Homo sapiens: one gene and its partners. The protein of the gene in region 5 purifies or fractionates together with the protein of the main gene of each other region. This does not show direct contact. Each region holds a gene or a part of one and is shown on either strand. Other genes may lie near its edges. The genes, in order: IVD, MRPL13, BCKDHA, OXSM, LYRM2, ALDH1L1 and ECH1.

Evidence for each region.
Region 1: the proteins of LYRM2 (region 5) and IVD purify together in Homo sapiens (affinity purification with mass spectrometry; one large-scale study listed by BioGRID and IntAct). This does not show direct contact.
Region 2: the proteins of LYRM2 (region 5) and MRPL13 purify together in Homo sapiens (affinity purification with mass spectrometry, with the first as the bait; one large-scale study listed by BioGRID). This does not show direct contact.
Region 3: the proteins of LYRM2 (region 5) and BCKDHA purify together in Homo sapiens (co-immunoprecipitation; one large-scale study listed by IntAct). This does not show direct contact.
Region 4: the proteins of LYRM2 (region 5) and OXSM purify together in Homo sapiens (affinity purification with mass spectrometry; 2 studies listed by BioGRID and IntAct, with this or other methods). This does not show direct contact.
Region 6: the proteins of LYRM2 (region 5) and ALDH1L1 purify together in Homo sapiens (co-immunoprecipitation; one large-scale study listed by IntAct). This does not show direct contact.
Region 7: the proteins of LYRM2 (region 5) and ECH1 purify together in Homo sapiens (affinity purification with mass spectrometry, with the first as the bait; one large-scale study listed by BioGRID). This does not show direct contact.

Annotation. Positions count from the first base shown.
Region 1 is NC_000015.10:40,418,802-40,421,808, reverse strand, and holds the end of IVD (isovaleryl-CoA dehydrogenase, mitochondrial isoform 1 precursor), read right to left. Parts: 3' UTR 2,630-3,007; coding exon of another isoform or gene 2,607-2,629; 3' UTR 501-2,606; downstream 1-500.
Region 2 is NC_000008.11:120,407,151-120,410,650, forward strand, and holds part of MRPL13 (large ribosomal subunit protein uL13m), read right to left. Parts: intron 1-3,500.
Region 3 is NC_000019.10:41,411,318-41,414,817, reverse strand, and holds part of BCKDHA (2-oxoisovalerate dehydrogenase subunit alpha, mitochondrial isoform 1 precursor), read right to left. Parts: intron 770-3,500; coding exon 661-769; intron 1-660. UniProt on the Homo sapiens protein: Together with BCKDHB forms the heterotetrameric E1 subunit of the mitochondrial branched-chain alpha-ketoacid dehydrogenase (BCKD) complex.
Region 4 is NC_000003.12:25,788,932-25,792,889, reverse strand, and holds the start of OXSM (3-oxoacyl-[acyl-carrier-protein] synthase, mitochondrial isoform 1 precursor), read right to left. Parts: upstream 2,801-3,958; 5' UTR 2,743-2,800; exon of another isoform or gene 2,074-2,742; intron 1,901-2,073; 5' UTR 1,870-1,900; coding exon 893-1,869; intron 1-892. UniProt on the Homo sapiens protein: May play a role in the biosynthesis of lipoic acid as well as longer chain fatty acids required for optimal mitochondrial function.
Region 5 is NC_000006.12:89,635,948-89,640,022, forward strand, and holds the start of LYRM2 (LYR motif-containing protein 2), read right to left. Parts: upstream 2,801-4,075; 5' UTR 2,770-2,800; coding exon 2,725-2,769; intron 2,690-2,724; exon of another isoform or gene 2,585-2,689; intron 2,539-2,584; exon of another isoform or gene 2,325-2,538; intron 1,936-2,324; coding exon 1,795-1,935; exon of another isoform or gene 1,778-1,794; intron 1,407-1,777; coding exon 1,326-1,406; 3' UTR 1-1,325. UniProt on the Homo sapiens protein: Involved in efficient integration of the N-module into mitochondrial respiratory chain complex I.
Region 6 is NC_000003.12:126,174,087-126,177,586, reverse strand, and holds part of ALDH1L1 (cytosolic 10-formyltetrahydrofolate dehydrogenase), read left to right. Parts: intron 1-3,500. UniProt on the Homo sapiens protein: Cytosolic 10-formyltetrahydrofolate dehydrogenase that catalyzes the NADP(+)-dependent conversion of 10-formyltetrahydrofolate to tetrahydrofolate and carbon dioxide.
Region 7 is NC_000019.10:38,821,795-38,825,294, reverse strand, and holds part of ECH1 (delta(3,5)-Delta(2,4)-dienoyl-CoA isomerase, mitochondrial precursor), read left to right. Parts: intron 1-1,897; exon of another isoform or gene 1,898-2,455; intron 2,456-3,500. UniProt on the Homo sapiens protein: Isomerization of 3-trans,5-cis-dienoyl-CoA to 2-trans,4-trans-dienoyl-CoA.

The DNA of each region.
Region 1 (3,007 bases), on a different chromosome or scaffold from region 5:
CCTGCACTCGGTTGTGCAAAGATCAAGGATCTCAGACTTGAGAGGGTTACATGGGCAAGGGATTGTTATCACTAGATTATATGGATTTAGAATTAGGACTTAGGCTCCTGGGGAAGCCTGCTTTAGGACTCAGATGGTGGTTGTAGAAGATTGCCTTGCAGACTCACCCTTGGGGATGTGATTAGGTCTGGGGCAGGATCCAGGAACCTGCATTTATTCTAGGTTGCCAAATTTTGATAAGGGGTGTGCTCAGACCACGCTTAAAAAACATCCCAAGGTTCTGTTGCCCTCCCACAGGGCAGGCAGCATCAACAGCAGCGAGCTGCCCTGATAGTGTGACCTGCCTAAAATTGGAGTGGAGTAAGAGCCAGCCGCAGGAAGGAGCAGTGCTGGCAGCTGGTGCTGCAGATTTGCCCAATGCATGTAGGCAACCAAACACGCCCACAAGAACCAAAGTAGACGTGCCCCTTGTTCTTCCATTTACCACTCAGGCTGCATGGTTCATTTTGTTTTTTTTGCTTTTAATTTTAAAACATTTATTTTGCTTCACATATAGAACCAGGAAAGAAATCACCTCCCCAAGTCGACAGGGCTTAGACAGACTGGATGAAGCGCCCCATTTTGCCACATTGTCTCCAGGCTGGTCTCTCCAGCCACACATTAAGCCAGCAAGATGGCCCTTTTAGTCACATTCATCTCCAACATAGCAGGGAGCAAGACAAGGAAGTGAAAGGGACTGCCTATGAGCCCAGGATCTTGCCCTCAGGATGGGACGGAACTGGGGTTGGTGAGGAGCCAACCCCACCTGTCTCAAGCCTCAGGCTAGGAACAGCACTTGGCTGCAGGCCAGGACCAAGAGCCAGGATAGGTGCTGCTGGGCTGAGAACCAAGAAAACCAGTTCCCTCTTTTTGGAACTCGGAAGGGGTGGAACAACCCAGACCCATTCCCTTCTCAGATCACACTCTATCCAGACTGCTGTACAGTGCGGCCCAAAGCTGGAATTCTCAGAACACCCCCATTTTTGCCATGAGCAGATCTGGATTCTAGTTCGTTTTGACCTTGAGAAAGTCAAATTGTGTTGATCTTTTTAAAAACAAAGGGGCGGTTTTCAGAAATCTATAAGCTTCCTTCTGGCTGTAAGAACTTAGCACTCTGGGCTCCCTGCTTCCTTTAAAACTCACTGGGAGATCTGGGAAAGGGAGGCTGAGACCTCTCTCCTAAGGGCTGATTTTACCTTCCTGTCCCTCATGAAAGAACGGGCTGGAGGACAGGAATAGGACCTGGGCCAGCCACTCTCCAAGGACACAAGCTGGATCCAGACAGGAAGCAGCGGCAAGTAGATTGCTTCTCCCCAGATAGGTTTGTTTCACAATATATTTAATACAAAATGGCAGCAGCCACTGTGCAGTTATAACAAAATTAGCCATAGGGTATCTGGAGAAATGTACACAGGCAGCCTCAGCTGGAGTCATGCGAGCCAACTCCGGCCTGCTCGGGTAGGGCCTGTGCCTGCTGCCCAGTCAGCTGTGGGTGGTCACACGGCCAGGACTGGATGGTGCCCGTGGCAGGGCGGTGCACAAGGGCTCAGAGGTGCTGTACAGGAGGAGCCAGTCTTCCAACAGTACACAAAAGCACGCTGTCCTCTGCTCTGCCCCCCCTGCGGACTCAGCAGCATGTGTGTTCATTTATTTTATTATTATTTTTTGAGACAGAGTCTCACTCTGTTGCCCAGGCTGGAGTGCAATGGCGCGATCTCAGCTCCTGCAACCTCTGCCTCCTGCGTTCAAGCGATTCTCCTGCCTCAGTCTTCTGTGTAACTGGGATTACAGGCGCGTGCCACCAGGCCTGGCTAATTTTTGTATTTTTAGTAGAGACGAGGTTTCACCATGTTGGTCGTCAGGCTGGTCTCGAACTCCTGACCTTGTGATCTGCCCGCCTCGGCCTCCCAAAGTGCTGGGATTACAGACGTTGAGCCACCATGCCTGGCCTATTATTTTTTGAGACAGAGTCTCGCTCTGTCGTCCAAGCTGGAGTGCAGTGGTGTGATCTTGGCTCACTGCAAACTCTGCCTCCCGGGTTCAAGCAATTCTCTGCCTCAGCCTCCTGAGTAGCTGGGATTACAGGAGCCTGCCACCACACCTGGCTAATTTTTGTATTTTTAGTAGAGACGAGGTTTTACCATCTTGGCCAGGCTGGTCTTGAACTCCTGACCTCGTGATCCACCTGCCTCGGCCTCCCAAAGTGTTGGGATTACAGGCATGAGTCACTGTGCCCAGCCTATTTTTCTTTCCTTTTTTGAGACAGAGTCTCACTCTATGGCCCAGGCTGGACTGCAGCGGTGTCATATTGGCTCATTGCAACCTCCACCTCCCGGGTTCAAGTGATTCTCCTGCCTCAGCCTCCTGAGTAGCTGGGATTACAGACGTGCACCACCACCCCTGGCTAATTTTTGTATTTTTAGTAGAGATGGGGTTTCACCACGTTGGACAGGCTGGTCTTGAACTCCTGACTGCAAGTGATCCACCTGCCTTGGCCTCCCAAAGTGCTGGGATTACAGGCACACACCACCTTGCCTGGCCAAGCAAGCATATGTGTTCATAAGCTGCTAGGAGCTGATACCTCTAGAAACTGGAAGAAACAAGGGCCAGGGTTTTTTTGTTTTGTTTTGTTTTTTGAAGAGTTTTGCTCTTGTCGCCCAGGCTGGAGTGCAATGGCACAAGCTCGGCTCACTGCAACGTCCGCCTCCTGGGTTCAAGTAATTCTCCTGCCTCAGCCTCCTGAAGTAGCTGGGATTACAGGTGCCCACCACCATGCCCAACTAATTTTTTTCTATTTTTAGTTGAGGCGAGGTTTCCACATGTTGGCCAGGCTGGTCTTGAACTCCTGACCTCAGGTGATCCACCCATCTCAGCCTCCTGAAGTGCTGGGATTACAAGCATGAGCCACCACGCCTGGCTAGGCTAGGTTTATTATTTTTTTCCCCCAGAAAAGAGACTGAAAGTTGAA
Region 2 (3,500 bases), on a different chromosome or scaffold from region 5:
CAAAAAAGCAGATTCAAATTCAGAATTCAGAAATGACAGAAGTCAAAACATTTATATTATCTTGAAAATGGAGTAATTTCTCACCTCTTAACATTAGGAAAAAACTTTTCGGAGATTTTAGTTTGTATTATAAAATGGTAGGAAAAATTTACTTGGTTGTGAATGAAACAAAACATCAAGTTATGAAGCACATGGTTTATGCTACATTAAGATAAGTGACACTTAACATTATTGGTCCTACTTCCCAGCACTTTGGGAGGCCGAGGTGGGCAGATCATGAGGTCAAGAGATCGAGACCATCCTGGCCAACATGGTGAAACCCAGTCTCTACAAAAAATACAAAAAATTAGCTGGGCGTGGTGGCGGGCTCCTGTAATCCCAGCTACTTGGGAGGATGAGGCAGGAGAATTGCTTGAACCCGGGAGGCAGAGGTTGCAGTGAGCCGAGATCGCGCCATTTCACCACCCCAGCCTGGGCAAAAAGAGCAAAACTCCATCTAAAACAAAACAAAACAAAACAAAACAAAACAAAACAAAACAAAACAAAAAATACATTATTGGTCCTACTAAGAATAATTTATTTTTCAAGTAAAAAAATTCCCTATTTCAGCTGTAAGTCCAGGAAATTGAGTGTAGCTTAAGTGTAATAAATCTCAAAAAAATTTTTTTCTTCAATAGGTTTTATGTCTTTTCACTCTTACATAATATTTCTTAGTATAATGCTTATTCTATGAAACATTTAAAAGACTAAAATAATATTTGGATGGTGAACTAATCTTAAAAGCGATAAAAGGTCAGTTTGAGTTTTAAGTCACTTCCATTGAATGAATGAAATTATTTAGAATAAACCATTTCAGGAAATCTGGTGACATCACATATTCTTTAAAGATGCTAGCTATACTGAGAGGTAAAGTAATGGTGCCTTAATACTAATTTTCCTAGGCACTGTAGCACCATCCTGATCCGAAAAAGCTCAACATACATTTAAATAAAATGTTTTTTTAAATCCTTTCTTGATTATTCTTTTTTGTTTCTTCCCTTTCAGATCCAGACCTACAGATCAACATACTTTTAAATAAACTAAACCTGTAAGATTGTTGAAAATTTTTGCCAAATGATTTTTTCAATTAAAATGAACAGAAATTGCCATTACATTCAACTGCACTTTTTTAGTCAAAATCTGTATCAGCTAGGACTTATAAATGATTTGGGTTTTGTTGTTTAAATAGAGACTACTTTTTTATTTTACTAGCCAGTCCTGATCTATTCACATCCAAAAGAACAGTACAGCTTAGAATGCCTAATTTGAGCAAAACCCAGGACTGGAAAGACTGAAGTCTATCATTGAAGTCAATGCTGAACTGGTTGAAATAGGTAGGAAAGTTGGAAAGTAACCTTAGTCCACAAGTCCAGCTAGTAACTGCTGACTGTGAAGAGCAGCAAATTAAGTTAAATTGTGTGGAGAAAATGCCACATGACTAGACTAGAAGAAAATTATGGAAAATCTTAAAGCTGTCCAGATCCCAGCAACTTATGGATTAGAAAAGGTAAAAATCCTTCTACATTGTCTTTAAGTCTCTGATCTGAAGCATGTTTTATAAAGGCATAGGTAAAAATAATCTTTTTCTGAGTATTAAGTAAATCTGAAAATGGGTAGTTTTTAGGATTAACAGCTTTCATATCAGAGAATATGCACTAAGCTTAAATCCGTGCTCTCTTCTAGAGCTATAGACTGAAGAGGATGCTCACCAATGCAGTGCTAATGTTCCCAGCATCTGGAATCCAGCTTTTCTTTTACAGAGCTGAATGGATCACATATTGAACTCCCTAATCCTCATCCTACTTTCGAAGAGACAGTTCTGCATCAGTAATGGTTGTCCTCATACTTCCTTGTCTTCATCCTTACCATCCATCTCTCCTTTGCAGGCACATTTCTAATAGCACACTCTAGAGTACTGAAACACCAGGAACACAGGTTTCTGTTATAAAAACCTGTGTTCAAGCATGTATTGATGCTGAAGCTTTCCATGGTTAGCTTCTCTACAAAGGTGAGAGTTTTGCTTAAAACAAGCATTTCTTACTGAATTAACATGTAAGGAAAAATAATGCAAAGCAATTCAAGTTGAATTTTTTCACATACGTAGTTTTCCTTAGGAAAAGCTCTCCTGCATCATTTTGCAAAACTTGAAAATAAAGTTTAAAATGATCCAAGTTTTATTTGTAGACTACATTTTGAAACATTTCCCTTACAATGAGCATGATTAATTTCCATGATTATTGGGGTTGTGAAATGTGTTGGCAAAACTGCAATAATCATGTAACAATTGATAGTATTAAAATAAATTGACCATTTTAAAGCTACAATCTTAAGCAACAGAATTGTGAAGAAAAGATAGTGCTATTTTTTTCCTTTAAAGAAAAAAGAAAAAAAATCTAAGTATAAACCCCACAGTCACCATTTGCACATTGCAAATACATATCTGCTTTGTACAGTCAAGAAATATAAAATAAACTTCCTAACATATTTTCACAAAATTTATGTATCCATGATTTATGTAAAATATACTAATACACCAAGAATATCCACTAACTTAAGAAGTGAGATGAATGGGCAATAGTACCCATAGTATATATAAAATGGCTTTTAGTTTTAAAAAAGTATAGTTTTGTCATAAATATCAATTTCATTCCTTATCTCCTACCATAGCTTAAAAATGACAATAACTAATGACTGAACAACAACTAGCAAAAGAAAACCTAATGTATGCTGAAACTAGGCCTGAAAGAATATAATCTTTGAAGATGATTTAAAATAATTTAAATAAAATCCCAACAATGCTAGCTTTTAATTAAGATTAAAGCAATTTTGTTAATCATCTACTGGGTTCAAAGCTCTTTGATAATTGTTTCTGCTGCTCAGAAGCTTTTAGTCTCTAATAGAAAAGTTAATAAACTTATATTTAACCAAATATTAATAATAGTTCAAATTATAAGATGTACATTCTAATATTATGAACATATTTTAAGTTTTATTACTAGGGCAGCAAACACCAGAGCAAGCTATTTTTGTGGCTATATACTTGTGGCGCAATGCAGGTACATTTGTTTCAGTCAAGTCTCTGCAGATTCACCATCAGATTTATCTTAAACAAATTCCAGTTACTACATTCCAAAGGAAAATTATATTCTTGGCTTAGCTATGTTGGGTAGAACAAAAGCATATCTTAAGCAAGGTCCTCTCCAAAAGGAGAAAAAAATTTTTTTCTAATAAAGGCAATCCTTTAATAATAAAAACCTCATGTTCCATGAATTGAACTGCATGGCATATCAAATATTTTAATTCTAATTCTAAAGTATATAATATTTAATAGAACTTTATAAAATGGCATAGTCCAATAACTAAAATAGCATAGTCCAATAATGTAGACACTAGCCATATGAAGGTAGCGTAATTTTATTCACTAACACGTAATTTTATTTACTAAAATTACATCAAATAAA
Region 3 (3,500 bases), on a different chromosome or scaffold from region 5:
AGTCCCCATGCAGGGCCCCACACCAACAAGCTCCCTGGAAGACCCCACTCACTGCTCCCTGGGCTCACTCCTTCGCTCCCAGGCACTCATTCCTGCTCAATGATTTTCTTCATTCCTGGTCTTTGACCCTTCCTTCCTTTCACTCATCTGGGCTTGCCGGGCCCCTCTAATCTTGCACCGCACTCAGGTCTGTCAAGGTTCTTCCACCTGCTCCTGCTCCCCGAAGGATACAGCACCTGAGGAGGGGCCAGGGGATCACTGCACCAGGCAGACAGGGTCTCCTGCACAGGCCACACCCACAGCGAACGTTGACTTCACTGCATCCTCCCAGCGACCCTTGGATGCAGGTACCGTCATAATCCCTCTTCTGGAGATTAGAAAACTGAGGCTCAGAGAAGGGAAGTGACTTGCCCAAAACCTGACAACTGGTAACAAAGGGTTAAGAGCACAGACCCTGAGCCACTACACTTTCTGGCCTTCAGAGTGGGAAGACTGCCCCCTCCAGAGTCCTAACCCTGGCTTGTCTCTTTCTTGCTTGGAAAGCTCTTCTTCCAGCTCCTTAGACCTTCCTGGCACTATGCTGCTCCTGGAAGAACACTCAGAAAAACTAAAGTGTACACTTCAATGGGGACCACAGGGCCAAACCACGGACAGACGTACCTGCCTCCCGGTACTGGCCAAACACCAGGTCCGTGTTGTCCAGGGCGGCGGCACTCCCCACGTGCGTGCCCTCCTCACCATAGTTGGTCATGTAGAAGGAGATCCGGCCCTGGGGGTGTAGAGGGGACCGGGGTCCCACAATTGGTTATGCTGGGCAATGACAGAGAGCCATCCAAATCCTGCCCAGCTTCCAACACCTCCATGAATTCACAGTCCTCCTGAAGGCCAGTCCTGGGCCAGGCCATGCTGGGGTTCCTGCCTTTAAGAAGACGCTGCCAGACTGCTTAGAACTGCCAGAGGGATCGAGTTGCTGTGATAGAAGCCCAAAGGAAGCACCTGTTCCACCACGGAAGGGCATCGGTGAGGACCAGTGCGCAAAGATGGGGTGGGTGGAGGGTTCCAGGCAGAGGGAATGATAGACCATGAGGCCAGAAGGGCTGGGACATACAGTGGTAGGGGTGGGGAAAGATGAGGAGGGAGAGGAGATGGCACCCAGATAACAAAGGGAACGATACATTGATTTTACTCTGAGAATAGTGGTAACCTGCCGACAGTCTTCTCAAGGGAGCAATGTGGTCAGACCTGTGTTTTAGAATTGCTCTCAGGCTGCAGTGAGGTAAATGGATGGAGTCATCAAGGCTGATTGCAGCAAGCCAGGAGAGAGGGGGCAGAGGCCCAGCTTGGTAGCAGAGGGAGGCGGGAGAGGAGCAGGTGGATGTGTCTGAGGAAGCTGAGTCGGCTGTGCTAGGGGGCAGCAGACCCTGTCAGCTGGCCACACCAGTGCCCAGTTCCCTTCTCCCAAATCCCCTAACCTGAGCCTCAAAAAGACACGCACTCAGGTCCCTGGCCTCCCTTGCAGCCAGAGGTGGCCATGGGACACAGTTTTAGCCAGATATTTTGGTGGAAGTCTGCTTTTGCTTTCTGGATAGAAGAGACCACTGCTGCTGGTGCCAGCCCTACCCACTCCCTACTTCTTCCTGCCTTGCAGACAGCCATGAAGCTTGGACATGCAGCAGCCATGCTGTGAACACGAGGCCACAAGCAGAGCACGAAGGTCAACTCACCAACAACAGTGAAGCAGAGAAAGGATGGGGCTGGGTCTCAGAGTGTGCTGCTGAGCAGCTGAGCACTTCCTAAAGATGTATCTACAGACAGGCTAGGCACGGTGGCTCACACCTGTAATCCCGGTACTTTGGGAGGCCAAGGCAGGCGGATCACTTGAGGTCAGGAGTTCCAGACTAGCCTGGCCAATGTGGTGAAACCCCATCTCTACTAAAAATACAAAAATTAGCCGAGTGTGGTGGTGGGCGCCTGTAATCCCAGCTACTTGGGGGGCTAAGGCAGGAGAATCACTTGAACCTGGGAGGCGGAGGTTGCAGTGAGCCGAGATTGCGCCACTGCACTCCAGCCTGGGCGACAGAGGTGGACTCCGTCTCTAAATAAATAAATAAAAATAACATAAAAGAAAAGAAGTAGCTACAGCTGGGTGCAGTGGCTCACACCTATAATCCTACCATTTTGGGAGGCCAAGGCAGGCAGATCACCTGAGGTAGGGAGTTCGAGACCAGACTGACCAACATGGAGAAACCCCATCTCTACTAAAAATACAAAATTAGCCAGGTGTGGTGGCGCATGCCTGTAATCCCAGCTACTCGGGAGGCTGAGGCAGGAGAATCGCTTGAACCAGGGAGGCGGTGAGCCAAGATCGTGCCATTGCACTCCAGCCTGGGCAACAAGAGCAAAACTCCATCTCAAAAGTAAAAAAAAAAAAAAAAAAGAAATATCTACAGACAGAGGGAATGAGAGGGGAGAAAGGGATAGCAAGGGGGAGGGAGGAGACAGGGATGAGATGAGGTTTCTGGTGTGGGCAAGCAGGTGGATGGTGGTGCTCTTCACTGAGAAACGGACTAGGTGAGGCAAAGGAGCACGCCTGGGAGGAAGATGTCGAGGTCAAGTTCAGACAGGATTAGTTTGCTGTGGGACATCCAGGGCGAGAAGCCAAGCAGGGCTCTGACAAGCAGTCTGGCTGGGGCTCTGGGCAGCCCTGGCATACGGATGGACATGAGATCACACAGGGCCATGTGTAAAGCGGAACAAAGGCAGCCTGGCCAGCACCCTGAGGGACACCCCGGGGCCAGAGCTCCTCGCGGCTCGGCGGTGCCCTCCTCCATGTGTTCCCAGGCCTGGCTTTCCCGTTGCTGTGGGGGAAACTGATGAATGTGTGCTTTCTTCTAAGTGGGGAGCCAATTAAAAGTTAATGCACATTCCAGTGCCAAGTGAGTGGGCGGTGCTGAGTACTGAGGGCCTGGCAGGACTGTCCAGGTTAGCGTGGGTAAGAGCCTGCAACCAGCCCCCTGAGGATCAGGACTCGGGGCTACTGGCAGAGGCTCCTGGTTGCCTTCCCAGTATACTATTCCCCTCCTCTGTTAACAGAGGTCTCAATCTCCCGCAGGCAGCAACTGCCGGGACTAAAGTATTATTAATACATTTCTCAGTCTCCCCTGCAGCTAGGAGTGGCCCAGGAAATGTATGCAGATGTCACTAGGTGGGACTACCCAGAAAGCTCTATAAAGGTGGGGGTGTGGGATAGCTGGGATGTGCCATGTCTGGCCTTCCGCCTTCCCTCTACTTCCTGCCTGGAAGACCCCCTGGATCTAGCTGTGCCCCAAAACAGGACCCTCTGGATGTATGGTCATTGGAGTCAATAACTTCCCTCTTTGTTGACACTGGCTTGACTGGATCCTTGTCCCTGATACTAGGATTTATCAGGGGATCACAGCCCATTTCACATGGGCCTAGGGCGGTCCCCTGGAGCACTCCAGGAAGCACTGGGGACCCAC
Region 4 (3,958 bases), on a different chromosome or scaffold from region 5:
TCTGGCTAATTTAACTGAGTAAAACATAATATGATTTAAGAAAGCTAAACTATTAGCTATCTATTAACACATTATCAGGGACTTTTTATTTTTATTTTTTTGCATTTTAAATGCACTAATCTATAACAGTTAACTTAAATGTAGTCCTTAAACCAGCAGTATCACCATCACCTGTTAGAACTACAGAATCTCTCAGCCTGGGAAATAAAGTGAAACCCCATCTCTACAAACAAATTCAAAAAAAAGAAAACTGGTCTCAGTGGCGCATTCCTGTAGTCCCAGCTACTCAGGAAGCTGAGGTGAGAGGATTGCTTGAGCCCAGGAGTTAGAGACTGCAGTGAGATAAGACCAGCATGGGCAATACAGAGAGACCCTGTCTCTAAAAAAACAAAACAAAACAGAATCTCAAGCACCACCCTAGACCTACAGAATCAGAATTAGCATTTTAAATAAGATCCCTAGGTGATTATAGTTTGAGAAGTGCTGATTTGAAAAGAACAGAATCCTGTTGAAATGGAGCAAAACCAGACACATCTAGAAGGGTTGACTTTACTTTCCAAGTCTGATGAAGGGTCAAAGAGGAGGACTTTGTGAGGGAGCACACTGATGCTTAAGCACAAATGCAGGCGTGAAAAGTTGGCAAAGACACACATGGTCTTTTCCACAACTCCATTGGTTTTTAACTCAAATGCAATTTTTGTAAGTATGTTCAAATGCTTTGAAATACTTCAAATGTCTTAAGCAAAGAACTAAACAATCTTGTTTAGTCTAAAAAAGAAAAACAACAGAGATACTGTACACCAAGGCCAGACACTACAACTTCCCTAATTTGGGATTCCCAATAAAGTGTCTTATTTGAAGAAATATTTCGAAGGAAATAACCCATCTTTACCTTAAGGCACCTTCTCCTTCAGGATCAGGGGCAGTTATGTGACCAGCATCACCTGAGAGTCCATAGCCCAAAACTTCTGCATAGATCCGGGCTCTTCTTTGAACAGCATGTTCATATTCTTCCAGCACCAGCACAGCTGCACCTTCTCCCATTACAAAACCATCTCTCTTTGGATGAAATGGTCGACATGCCAACTTGGGATCTGAGTTTGTGCTCAGAGCCCGGGCTCTGGAAAACCCAGCAAGAGATAAAGGGCTAATACAAGAATCTGTACCTCCAGCCACCATCACATCAGCATCACCATGGGCTATAAATCTAAATGAGTCTCCCACAGCATGAGCTCCTGTGGTACAGGCTGTGGATACTGCATGATTTGGGCCCTTGAGTTTATATCGAATGCTGACCTGGCCTGCTGCCATATTGACCAGAATCTTAGGGACAAAAAATGGGCTAACTTTATTGTAACCTTTTGTCTGAAAATTCAAAGCAGTTTCAGAAACAACTTCAAGAGGAATCATTCCCATGCCAATTGCAACACCAGTAGCCACTTGATCAGCTTCTGACTGAGGATGCCAGCCAGAATCCTTCATGGCTAATTCTGCAGCCCCAATGGCCATGATGGTGGGAGAAGACATGGACTTGATATCTGATTTGGACACAAAGTTTTGTTCATTGAACTGACCTTCATCACTACCTCTTGGCACATAAGCAGCAACACTGCAAGGGATACTCTTATACTCTTCACCAACCAGTGAAACAATTCCACTCTCTCCTCCGATAAGACGATCCCAAACCAGGTGAGTTCCAACACCAAGAGGAGTCACTAAGCCAATGCCTGTAATGACAACTCGCCTATGCAATCTGGATATTGGCACAGTTCCGAAAAACTTCCTTTTACTTCTTAACTGTTGGCATAATCTTGAACATAGAAGACGAGTGCTTGTAATTTTCAGGAAATTTTGCAGGCAGTTGGACATGATTAAGATTCAGATGATCAGAAACACATTCCTGTAAAAGACCACAACACACCTAGGAGGTATTCTTTTAAATAGCTTAAGGGCCTAAGGAAAAACATCCAAGGTGTTCCTTTGGGTGCTTGATATGAGCTGCTAATGAACACAGGGAAAATGTTACATACTTTCAATTTATACCTTAACATCAAACTATCTGTTTAAACTTACCTTCTTTTTTAGACCTTAAGTGCCGTCAGACATTTGAAGACAAATAAATGAATTGATGATTCATTCGAGTCACCAAAACAGTAATTCAATGAAAAATATAAAGGCACCTCCAGCCTGATTTGAGCTGCAGGAAGCATCCTTTGTCAGGATTACTGATAACTTCTTCTAAATAGCATTTCTGGTGTCAGTGGCACAGAAAACACATTTCAGGGCATATTCTTTTAAGTAAGTAAGTGGGCTTTATCAATCTTCAGTACTTAAGGATAACCAGCCTTTTCAAAACGCTACCCAGGGCCAAGAGCCCTAGACTGAGCGTCTGGATACATGGGTTGGCAATACACTCTGTGACCAAGCTTGCGATGGGGGAAGGGGACAAGTCTTTCCACTCCTCTAAACTTCTCCAATTGAATCATTGGTGGAAGGAGGGGTTACGACTAGTGGATCACTTCAAGGGTACTACGAAGGCCAGGGGCGGGAGTAAAAGAGTGTAGCCATTCCCTGTATCGCCTCTCAGGCACCACCACACATGTACACAGCCCGAAGAAGCATGGCGAGAGAAAAAGAAATCAGGCCCCAGGTCCTCGGACTCCCCTCTCGAAATTCAACCCCGACTTGATTTGAATGTAAAGGAGGAAAGGAGGGGCGAAGGAGGAGGGTAGCCAGCGATACCTGTAACGGGGCTACCCCGGACACTTCTCCACAGTCGGGGGCGATGACGCTCTCGAGCGCACGCGCACACGCACGTACGCTCATGCGCGCTCGCACGTACGCTCATGCGCTTTCCCACGCACGCGTCCCGTTCGACTCTCTTTCCGCCGGTTGACTTTAAGCCGCGTCACCTTGGCTGAGGTCAGACCGTGGGAGGCGGCTGGGTAGCTGTTTGCGTGAGCAGAGACGCCCCTCTCGGAACCTCAGTGACTCGCCGATAATCGAGGACCTGCCAATAACGCGATGAGGTAGCATTTTCACCCATCAAAAAGGCATTTTTCTTTGGCAGTGATAATGCCCAAATATTCCCTTTTGTCGGAGAAGGGACACCATCGTATTCTACTGGAATTGTAAGAAAGAATTAAGGAAATTCTCTGCAGTTTCAAAGTTATTGCTATAGCTCGCAACGTTATTAGTAATTGTGAGTAAAGTGGAATTAACCAAAATGGCCAACATCAGGAAATTTGTTGTGTATCTTGTGGTACATCCAAATGCCATGCAGCCGTTTAAAATAATTCTGCAGGTGAATATTTATTAATGAGATGTTGCGACTATTTGTTAGGAGACATAGTTACAAAACAGTATATATCCGTTTTTTCAAAAATAATTCTTTAAAGGTCTGCAAGATGTATACTGATTGTGATCTTTCCCTCCTTATTTTTGCTTAGCTTTATTTAATAAAGCTTTTCTACAATAAACAAATGTTTTTGTAATAAAGTTTTTACTTTTTAAAAGTTGTCACCAGGCTGTTCTGCCTATGGAGTAGTCATTCTTTGTTCCTTTACTTTCCTAATAAACTTCCTTTCACTTAAAAAAAAATTATCACCAGATTTGAGACAGTGCTCAAAAATTGTCTCCATTGTCACAATGGAGACATTTGTTTCTAAGTGTGAAAAATTCATTAACTGTTTGCTTAGAGCTGACTGCAAACCGATAAAGGGAAAATATAACATGAAAATGTAAAAAAGCAAGAAGTCGACAAGATGGTATTCATCGAACATCTGTTTTTCACATGCTATCCCAGGCGTGAGTTTTGTCCTTGCTCTTCTTTAGAAAAATGGTTGAGCATAGAATCTTCATCTGGACCTTCTAGTCATATTTATGGTTTTTTCTGGGCAATGCCTCTTGAAGCCATTGTTTCCAAGTAGAGTGCTCTGCATTCTTTCCTACCCCTACA
Region 5 (4,075 bases):
TCTCTTCCCTTTTCAACAAAGATCTAGATTCCCAGTGGTGATCTTTTTGATGAGTTCTCTATCAAACTATGACACATCTGAAGAACGTACCTGAACAACCCTCAGGGATAATGCAGGATTTTTCGAGAAAGTTCCAGGGTATCTCCTGGTGTCAGTATACTTTCAGTCCTACACCTCAAGAGTTTTTTAATAACAGCTTTATTGAGATACAATTCATACCTTACATTTAAAATGTACAGTTCAGTGGATTTGAATATATTCAAGAGTTGTGCAGCCTACACCACAAGCTAACTGTAGGATATTTTCATCACCCTGAAAAGGAACCCTACACCCATTAGCAGTTACTCCATTCCATCTACAGCCAGCCTAGGCAACCACTAATCTTTCTGCCTATTCTGGACATTTCGTATGAATGGAATCATCATGTGATCTTTTGTGACCGGCTTCTTTCACTTAACGTTTTCAAGGTTTATCCATGTTTAGTATATATAAGTCCTTCGTTTCTTTTTAGTGCCAAATAATGGCTATGGGCATGGGGTAGAAGTGCTAACTCATACAGCAGCTGTTTCATCTTTTGAGGAACTGACCGTCTGTTTTCTGAAGTGGCTACACCATTTTACATTCCCACCAGCAATGTATGAGGGTTCTGTAATTTCTGTACATCTTCACCAAGACTTATTATTATTTCTCTTTTTAATTACAGCCATTCTAGTGAATGTGAATCTCAGGGTTGTTTTTTTTTTTTTTTTTTAGAGACTGTCTCACTCTGTCACCCAGGCTGAAGTGCAGTGGCACGACCTCAGCTCACTGCAACCTCCACTTCCTGGGTTCAAGTGATTCTCCTGCCTCAGCCTCCCAAGTAGCTGGGACTACAGGCAATGCACCACCACACCAAGCTAATTTTTGTATTTTTAGTAGAGATGAGGTTTCACCATGCTGGCCAGGCTGGTCTTGAACTCCTGACCTCAAGTGATCCACCTACCACAGCCTCCTAAAGTACTGGGATTACAAGCATGAGCCACTACACCCGACCTCATAGTAGTTTTGATTTACACTTCCCTAATGATTGTGTCCAGCATCTACTGGCCATTTGTTAGTGGTTTTTTTCTTCTTTTAAGAACTGCTGAGACATCCATAAACATTTTCAAAATGCAGGGTATGTTTTTCAGTGTTAAGGCAACTGTTCTGATGTGTTTTTCCTTTGCTCTCTATCACCAAATACTGTACATATAAATAGTAAGACTGGGCTTTGTGTTGTCCATTGTTAATCCTAAATGCAACAAAACACATGGAGACTTTGAAAATCCTTCAGAATAATGCTATAGTTAAGATTTTGCTAAAGCAAGTGTTTTTTCTAACTCCTTGAGCTGCATATTGCCTTGAGTAATCATCATCCGGATTGTATCCTGTAGAATAAAGTGAAATCTGGTTATAGTTTTACCTGGTTAAACAAGGTATAGCTATACCATTTTATCTGTTAAAATCAAGAACCAATACTACCTATTGGAACTGCTGCCTTTTAGAAAAGCTAAAAGAGTTCCACATACATACATATAAAATGTACAACATAAAAGTCAAGTGATGATGCTGAAGAGTGTAGATACTCTTTTATCTACATATTTTAAAATACTAAATTTTAAAATAATAATTTAAAATCGGTAACATTACAAGCAATGATCAAGATATACCAGCTCAGTGGCACTATATTCCAAGATGTCTGCTAAACTTAAAAAAAAAAATTCACTGATCAATAAAAAGGGTTAGGATCTGTCCTCACCATGATTTTGTTCTCACCTCTTCGGTGGCACTTTTGTTTCTTCTGAATTCTTCTCTTGCCCAATCTTTCAGGTATTTGCGATCAGAATCATTTGGAACTTGCCGAATTGTTTGCAAAATCCTTCTGTAGAGGAGAAGAACTTGTTGCCTTCTTACGAACTGTAAAAGGGAGGAGTAAATAGCAATTACTACTGCACAATCGCCAGCCTGGAAAGTTCTACTTCAGCAAACCAAGCTGTAACCAGAGTACTTCTCGTTGGTCAATTTTGAAAAAGGCAAAGAAAAACTTTTTTTTTTCTTTTTTTGGCCAGATGCAGTGGCTCAGGCCTGTAATCCCAGCACTTTGGGAGGCCAAGATGGGAGGATCACTTGAGCCCAGGAGGTCTAAGCTGAGGTAAGCCTTCATTGCGCTACTGCACTCAGCCTGGGCGAGAGTGAGGCCCTGTCTCAAAAAGATGTTTTAAAGAAAGCATCACGAGGTTCATCTGATCTTTTTGCTTACTGCTCTGTCAAACCTAAGAACCATTAAAAAATCAGGAGCTGCCTACCGGGCTGAAAAGGGCTGCCGGTCTCCTAGAAGTTGTTATTACAACGACAGCACTTTTTCTAAATTAACAGTTGTTCAAATCTTTGGTAATCTCATTTGCTGTTTGCCACAGCTCAGTGCAATAGACTTTTACCGTGGGCACTGGGCAGCTGAGGCACCGGGACTCAGGGAAATCAAGCGCCTGACGCTGTCTCACGCGATCGCACCAAACCAAGGAAGCAGCCAGTGCCTCCCGTCAGGCCCCGCGGAGCGAAGCACCGCCCCGCAGGCATCGGGCCAATCTCAGAGGGCGCGCACGCCGCATCAGGACCCCGGAACCCGCCCCGTTGGGGATAGGGACAGATGGAGAATCCAGCTCAGACCCAGGTAAGCTGCTTTGGAAGGCAGAGAACCGCCGGTACCTGCTTTAACGTTAGCGTCGCTGGGGGTAAGCGGGAAGCAGCCATGTCCACCAGAGGTCCGCCGGAGCCTCAGCGCGCAGGAGCGGAAGTGGGGTTCGACCAAGGGGTGTGGCGAGCCCGGTTTCCTAGGAGACGGCCCGCGGGTTGCTCTCGGACTGAGAGCGCGAGGCTTCGGGACTGAGCCCTAGCTGCTGCGCTGGCCGAAGTTTTCTCGTCGGTAAAATAGGATAACAGTGCACCATAGGGTCGTTTTGATAAAGAAGAAAGGTAGGGCACTTAACACAGTTCCTGGTAAAGAGAGTTCAAATGAAAGTGAAGGAGGCCGGGCGCGGTGGCTCTCACCTGCAGTCCCAAGCACTCTGGGAGGCCTGTAAGGTGCCTGTAATCCCAGCTCCTCGGGATGCTGAGGCAGGAGAATCGCTTGAACCCGAGAAGTGAAGGTTGCAGTGATCCGAGATCGCACCACTGCACTCCATCCTGGGCGACAGAGCGAGACCCTGTCTCGAAAAAAAAGTTAAGGTTTTTTTGGGGGAAAGAGGTGAAAACGTATTTAAATGTTCTTTCGAGCCTTTAAAAATGTGTATAGTTGAAAATACTAAAATTGAAAGTGTTAATTTCTTTTACAGTTTGTGTTGGTTTTTTCTCTTTCTCGTTTTTGTCCTGTTCTTTTGTAGCGCAAAGGTTTTCCGGGAGCGGTGGCCTTCATGATCATTTGAAACAAAGCTTTGAATGGCTCACCCACTTCAGTCTTAAGCACTTTTCATCACTAATAACGAGGAGCCTAACATCCCTAAGCCTCAGGCTTTTGCTTTTATTTCCTTATAGTTGTTTTATCTTTCCCACAATACACATGCCTTTGGGTTAAATCACTAGAAGTGGAGTTAGCGAATCTTTGCCATATTAATTTTCCAAGTGGTGTTGTATCGAATTAAAATAGAACGAAAAATGTTCAATTACTAGTTTACTGGGGACTTGCTTGCCTCGCCTGTTAGCATCCTGGGGCTCCCTATTCCTAGCTGTGTTCTGGCTATTTCCCCTCTCCTGGCCTATTACCTCCCCTGTAAAGTGAAATATAGCATCTACCTCAGTTGTGTATCTCTAATGTACTGAGAACAGGTCCTGGCACATGTAAGAACTCTAATCATTAGCTCTTTTGAACTTTACCAGGCATTGTATGAATGATGCTAACTGCATGATCATATTATCAATAATATATGCCAAATTTTGTCTAATACATTAGCTGTAATAGTTAATTGCTAACTTTTTAAAAGGAGTGAAGTTAAATACCCCTCGCCATTTTTAGTTATACTGTTTTTGTGAATTGTTCATGACTTGGGTCCGTTTATGATGA
Region 6 (3,500 bases), on a different chromosome or scaffold from region 5:
CTCCTGTGCTCTACCCATCCACCCCCCAACCCCCCTACCTATCCCTGGCAACCACTGGTTACTGCCTTTGTAGTTTTGCCTTTTCCAGAATGTCATATAGTATGTATGAATCATATGGTATATAGCCTTTCCAGACTGGCTTCTTTCGCTTAGCAAAATGCATTTAAGCATCCTCCATGTCTTTCTGTGACTTGGTAACCCATTTCTTTTTATCATTGACTAATATTCTGTTGTATGGATGTGGAGGTACCACAGTTTATTTCTCCATTCACATACTACAGGATATCTTGGTTGCTTCCAAGTTTTAGCAGTGAATAAAGCTGCTATCAACATTTGTGTGCAGGTTTTTGTGTGGACATTAGTTTTCTTCTCCTTTGAGTAAATATCAAGAGCGATTGATGGATCACATGGTAAAAGTATGTTTCGTGTTATAAAAAACTACCAAACCTTTTTCCATAGTGGTGGCATAATTTTTCATTTCTACCAGTAATAAATAAGAGTTCCTGTTGCTCCACAGCCTCATCAGCATTTGTTGTCAGTGCTCTTAATTTAACTCTTCTAATACGCATATAGTAGTATCTCATTGTTATATTTTAATTTGCAATCTGTAATGACTTACAGTGTTGAGCATCTTTTTAAATGCTTCTCTGCCATCTGTATATCTTCTTTTGTGAATGTCGGTTAATTTACTTGGCCCATTTTAAAATTGGGTTGTTTGTTTTACTGTTGAGTTTTAATAGTTCTTTGTATATTTTGGATAACAGTGCTTTACCAGATATGTCTTCTCTCCCCAACCATGGCTTGTCTTTTCATTCTCTTAACAGTGTCTTTTGCAGAGCAGAAGTTTTAAATTTTAATAAGGTCTAATGTACCATTTTTTTTCCTCCATGAATTGTGCTGTTGTTGTTGTATCTAAAAAGTCAAATCCAAGTTTTGGCAGTTACAAATAAAGATGCTGTAAACATCAGTGTACAGATATTTGTGTGATTTTTGTGCAATGCAGATTTTCTCCATTGTCTTGCCTTTGTCTCTTTGTCAAAGTTCAGTTGACTGTATTGATGTGAGTTTACTTCTGGGCTCTCTATTCTGTTCAATTGATCTATCTGACTATTCTTTTGCCAATACCGTACTGTCTTGATTACTGTAGCTTTATAGTAAAGTCTTGGGGACAGGCAGTATCGGTCCTCTAACTTCGTTCTCCTTCAATATTGTGTTGACTATCCCAGGTCTTTTGTCTCTCCAAATAAACTTGAGAATCAGTTTGTTGATATCCACAAATAACTGCTGGGGTTTTGATTGGGATTGCATTGAATCTATAGATAAAGTCGGAAAGAACTGACATCTGGACAGTATAGAGTTTCCCTACCCATGAACATGTACTATCTCTTCATTTATTTATACATATTTTTATGTTTTCATCAGTTATGGTTATTCTCACATAGATTTTGACCTATTTTAGGTTTATGTATAAATAATTCACTTTTTGGTGCTAATGTAAATGGTTTTGTGTTTTTAATCTCAAATTTCAATTGTTTATTGCTAGTATATAAGAAAGTAATCAATTTTTGTATATTAACCATGACTTTACATCCAGCAACTTTGGCAGAATAACTTATTATTTCCAGTTTTCTGTTGCTTTGTTGGCATTTTCCACATAGCCAATTATGTTTTTTGAGAACAAGAACAGTTTATTTCTTCCTTCCCAATCTGTAGACTTTTCATTTTCTTTTCTTTTCTAATTACATTAGCCAGCACTTCCAGTATAATGTTGACTAGGAAGGGTGAAAGGGAACATCCTTGCCTTATTTCTGATCTTAGGGGAAAAGCTTCTAGTTTCTCTCCATTAAGTATGATGTTAGCTGTAGGTTTTTCATAGATCTTCTTTATCAAGTTAAGTTCCCATTTATTACTAGCTTGCTGAAAGCTCTTATCATAAATGAATGTTAGATTCTTGTCAAATGCATTTTCTGGATCTATTGATGTGATCATATAATTCTTCCTTAGCCTATTCATGCGATGGATTACATTAATTGATTTTCAAATGTTTAACCTAGAATAAATCCCATGTGGTGGTTATGTATAATTCTTTTTAAACATTGTTGGATTCAATTGCTGATTTTTTTGAGGATTTTAACATCTATGTTTATGAGAAATATTGATCTGTTAGTTTCCTTTCTTGTAATGTTTCTGGTTTTGGTACCAGGGTAATTCTGACCCAAGAAAATTAGAGAATTTCCTCTACTTCTATTTTTTGAAAGAGATCATAGAGAATTGGCATAATTTCTTTCTTAAATGTTTAGTCATATTCATTAACCCTAGTGCTTTCTATTTTGGAAGGCTACTGGCTCCAGTTCTTTAATCAGTATAGGCCTATTCAGATTATCTATTTCTCTTTGTGTGAGTTTTGGAACGTTGTACTTTCAAGGGATTGTTTCATTTCATTTAACTTACCAAATTTGTTGATATAGAGTTGTTCATACTAGTATTTTATTATCCTTTTAATGACCGTAGGATCAGTATTGATGGCCCTTCTTTCATTTTTGATATTAGTAATTTGAGTCTTCTCTCTTTTTCTTCTTAGTTAACCTGGCTAGAGGTGTCTCAGTTTTATTCATCTTTTCAAGGAACCAGCTTTAGGTTTTGTTGATTTTCTCTATTGACAGCATGTTTTCAATTTCACAAGTTCTGCTGTAATTTTTATTATTTCCTTTCTTCTGTTTATTTTGGATTTAATTTGCTCTTCTTTTTCTAGTTTCCTAATTTGGAAACTTGCTTTTAGCTCTTTCTTCTTTAATAATATATGCATTCAGTGCTCTAAATTTCCCTCTAAACACTACTTTAGCAGCATCCCATAAATTTTGATGTTATATTTTCATTTTAATTTAGTTTGAAATATTTTAAATTTTTTCTTGAGAGTTATTCTTTGATTTGTTTACATGTTGTTTAGAAGTGTGTCATTTAGTTTCCATTTTTTTAATGTTTTTCAGATATCTTTCTGTTATTGATTTCTAGTGATTCTGTTGTGATCTCAGTAATCTCCATCATAGAAGTCATTGATATTTGTTGTTGTATGTTTTATGGCACAGAATGTGGTCTGTCTTGATGAATATTCCATGTGAACTTGAGAAGAATGTGTATTCTGTTGTTGTTGGGTGAAGTATTCTCTAAATGCCAATTAGATACACTTAATTGATGGTGCTGTTCAACTATGTCCTTACTGATTTCCAGCCTGCTGGATCTATCAGTTAGTGGGTACTGGCCAGGCACGGTGGCTTACGCCTGTAATACCAGCACTTTGGGAGGCCGAGGTGGGCAGATCACCTGAGGTCAGGAGTGCGAGACCAGCCTGACCAACATGGAGGCTCTACTAAAAATACAAAATTAGCCGGACGTGGTGGTGCATGCCTGTAATCCTAGCTACTCGGGCGGCTGAGGCAGGGGAATTGCTTGAACCCGGGAGGCGGAGGTTGCAGTGAGCCGAGATCGTGCCACTGCACTCC
Region 7 (3,500 bases), on a different chromosome or scaffold from region 5:
GTCAACAGATGTTTACGACTCCAGTCCCCATGATCTAAGTCAAGGTCCCAGTGGGGATCCATACTGGGGATGGCTTGCTGACCGATAGGGAATTTGTCCCTTTCTTCAGGTGTCATTCTATCATTTACTTGATTAAGATTCCAGGTATCTCCAAACTCTCAGGCTGCAGCTAAAGCTGCATTCTTTTCATTAAAGGCCAGGGTTTGATCTAACAGTAGCATGACATCTCTCCAAGCGAGGTCGAAAGTTTGCCCTAGACCCTGTAGGGCATGTATGTACCTATCAGGATCATCTGAAAACTTCCCCAGGTCTGCCTTGATCTGCTTTAAATCAGAGATGGAGAAGGGGACATGTACCCGGGTGGGACCAAATTCCCCTCCCCCTACAGCTTGAAGGGGACATAACCAATAGCCAGGAGGGTTTTGTGGTCCTTTGGAGATTTCTTTGCATATTTCCTTCTGGGCAGGGGAGATTAGAGGAAGATTATCATTAATAGGAATGGGAGCTATAGGGAGGCTAGGATATGGTGGTAAGCTGAGAGGTCCTCCTGTGGGATGTAAATTGTAAGCTTTGCATAGTTGTGTATTCTCCCTCCATGAAAAGAAAGCTTGGACATAAGGTATTTCACTCCATTTGCCTTCCCTCTTACAGAAAAGGTCAAGCTGCAGGATAGTATTGTAATTTGTACTTCCCTCAGGTGGCCATTTTTCCCCATCAGAGAGAGAATACTGGGGCCAGGCCATAGTGCAGAAAAAAAATGAGCCTCCTCTTTTTCAGGGTTTATGGGTCAAATTGGTCCCAACGGCTTAGGATGCATTTCAAGGGTGAGCCTGTTGATGGCTGAATGTTTCCCATCTGAAAGACAAAACCACCCGCGGTTTTGGTTTGTTTTGTTTCTCCCCCTGCCCAAGAAACTGCAACAGTCCCTGTACCCTGCTGATCGGAATAGTTGTGCTCATCAACGCAGCAGCAGAAACACTAGTTTTCCTCTCAGACCACATGGAGGACCAAGGAAGGTCGGATTTAGTGGCCCTTACCGACGCATTCTTGAAAACCTGTTAGAGTTCTAAGCATTCTCCTGTTAGTATTGGGACTTTACCCCTGTCCTATAAAGATGTTATGCCCCAAAAATGAAGTGGAGGGCCATACCCTGAGGGAGGGAAGGGATCTCCAGGGTTGGAAGAGTGACACCTTTTGTCCTCACTTATATGAATAGGAAAGCTACAATTTCTGAGGCTCCCCATATCCTAGCTTCAGGAATACCTTTGTTAGGCCTGTTAGTCTGAGGAGGGATCGTAAAATTCCAGGTAGTCGCCACTATGACAGGGCTTTGGGCAAAAATTATGTCTTTCTGATTGGTGAGCCTGGGTGCCTAAAGAATGTAACAGAGTTCTAGAAGTCGTTCTTATAGGAGAAACTAGAAAAGCACCAGAGACAGCAAATTTTAGAAGCAGGACTAAACTCGGAGAAGAGAGGTGAGAGGAAGTTTGTCTGGCAGGCATTAGGACCCGGGGGCAAGAGTCAGGATAGATAGGATAGATGGGCGAGTCTCGCTTGGGCGACATGCCTTTGAGTGTTCCGCTCATGGCTGCAGGGTCAACGAACTTGTTGTCTTGTCGGGACCCTAGAGCTGCATGGCTTTCCTCTCTGTCGACCCTCGGCTCAGCCCAGAAGTACAGGAAAAGCAGAAGCTGGTTCTAGGCAAACCAACGCTCCCAACTCCAAAGAGTCGGGAGTTGTTAGAGAGCCCTTTCCCAGAAAGCCTGACACCCATGTCTTTAGTCCAGCGGCCATGCTAGTCACTTTTAACTGGCAGACAGGTGCCTGGTATTTAGCCCCCAAATTCTAAGGAAAAATAGGACAGAATAGCAAGTGAAAGGGGTCCAGTGGTACTCACTGCTTGGCGATAGGTGATAGTCTCACCGCTCAGCGATAGGCAGTGGTCTCACCGCTTGGCGATAGGTAATAGTCCCATCTGGGTCACCAAAATGTATCCGGAATTGGTGGGTTCTTGGTCTCACTGACTTCAAGAATGAAGCCGCAGAATCTCGTGGTGAGTGTTACAGTTCTTAAAGGCGGCATGTCCGCAGTTTGTTCCTTCTGATGTGTTCGGAGTTTGTTCCTTCTGATGTTTGGGTGTGTTCAGAGTTTCTTCCTTCTGGTGGGTTCGTGGTCTCGCTGGCTTCAGGAATGAAGCTGCAGACCTTCGCAGTGAGTGTTATAGCTCTTAAGGCGGTGCGTCCAGAGTGGTTCGTTCCTCCCGTCCGGAGTTGTTCATTCCTCCCAGTGGGTTCGTGGTCTTGCTGGCCTCTGGAGAGAAGTTGCAGACCTTCGCGGTGAGTGTTATGGCTCATAAAGGCAGTGTGGACCCAAAGAGTGAGCAGCAGCAAGATTTATTGCAAAGAGCAAAAGAACAGAGCTTCCATAGCATGGAAGGGGACGTGAGTGGGTTGCCACTGCTGGCTCGGACAGCCTGCTTTTATTCCCTTATCTGTCCCCACCCACATCCTGCTGGTTGGTCCGTTTTACAGAGAGCTGATTGGTCTGTTTTACAGAGAGCTGATTGGTCCATTTTGACAGGGTGCTGACTGGTGCGTTTACAATCCCTGAGCTAGACACAAAACTTCTCCAAGTCCCCACTAGATTAGCTAGACACAGAGCACTGATTGGTGCATTTACAAACCTTGAGCTAGACACAGGGTGCTGATTGGTGTATTTACAAACCTTGAGCTAGACACACAGTGCTGATTGGTGTATTTACAATCCCTTAGCTAGACATAAAGATTCTCCAAGTCCCCACCAGATTAGCTAGATACAGAGTGCTGATTGGTGCATTTACAAACCTTGAGCTAGACATAGGGTGCTGATTGGTGCATTTACAAACCTTGAGCTAGACACAGAGTGCTGATTGGTTGTTTACAATCCCTTAGCTAGACATAAAGAGTCTCCAAGTCCCCACCAGATTAGCTAGATACAGAGTGCTGATTGGTGCATTTACAAACCTTGAGCTAGACACAGGGTGCTGATTGGTGCATTTACAAACCTTGAGCTAGACACAGAGTGCTGATTGGTTGTTTACAATCCCTTAGCTAGACATAAAGTTTCTCCAAGTCCCCACCAGATGAGCTAGACACAGAGCATTGATTGGTGCATTTACAAACCTTGAGCTAGACACAGGGTGCTGATTGGTGCATTTACAAACCTTGAGCTAGAAACAGAGTGCTGATTGGTGTATTTACAATCCCTTAGCTAGACATAAACGTTCTCCAAGTCCCCACCAGATTAGCTAGATACAGAGTGCTGATTGGTGCATTTACAGTCCCTCAGCTAGACATAAATGTTCTCCAAATCCCCACTAGACTCAGGAGCTCAGCTGGCTTCACCCAGTGGATCCTGCACCAGGGCCGCAGGCGGAGCACTCCTCAGCCCTTGGGCAGTTGATGGGACCAGGCGCCGCCGAGCAGGGGGTGGCGCTCCTCGGGGAGGCTCGGGCTGTGCAG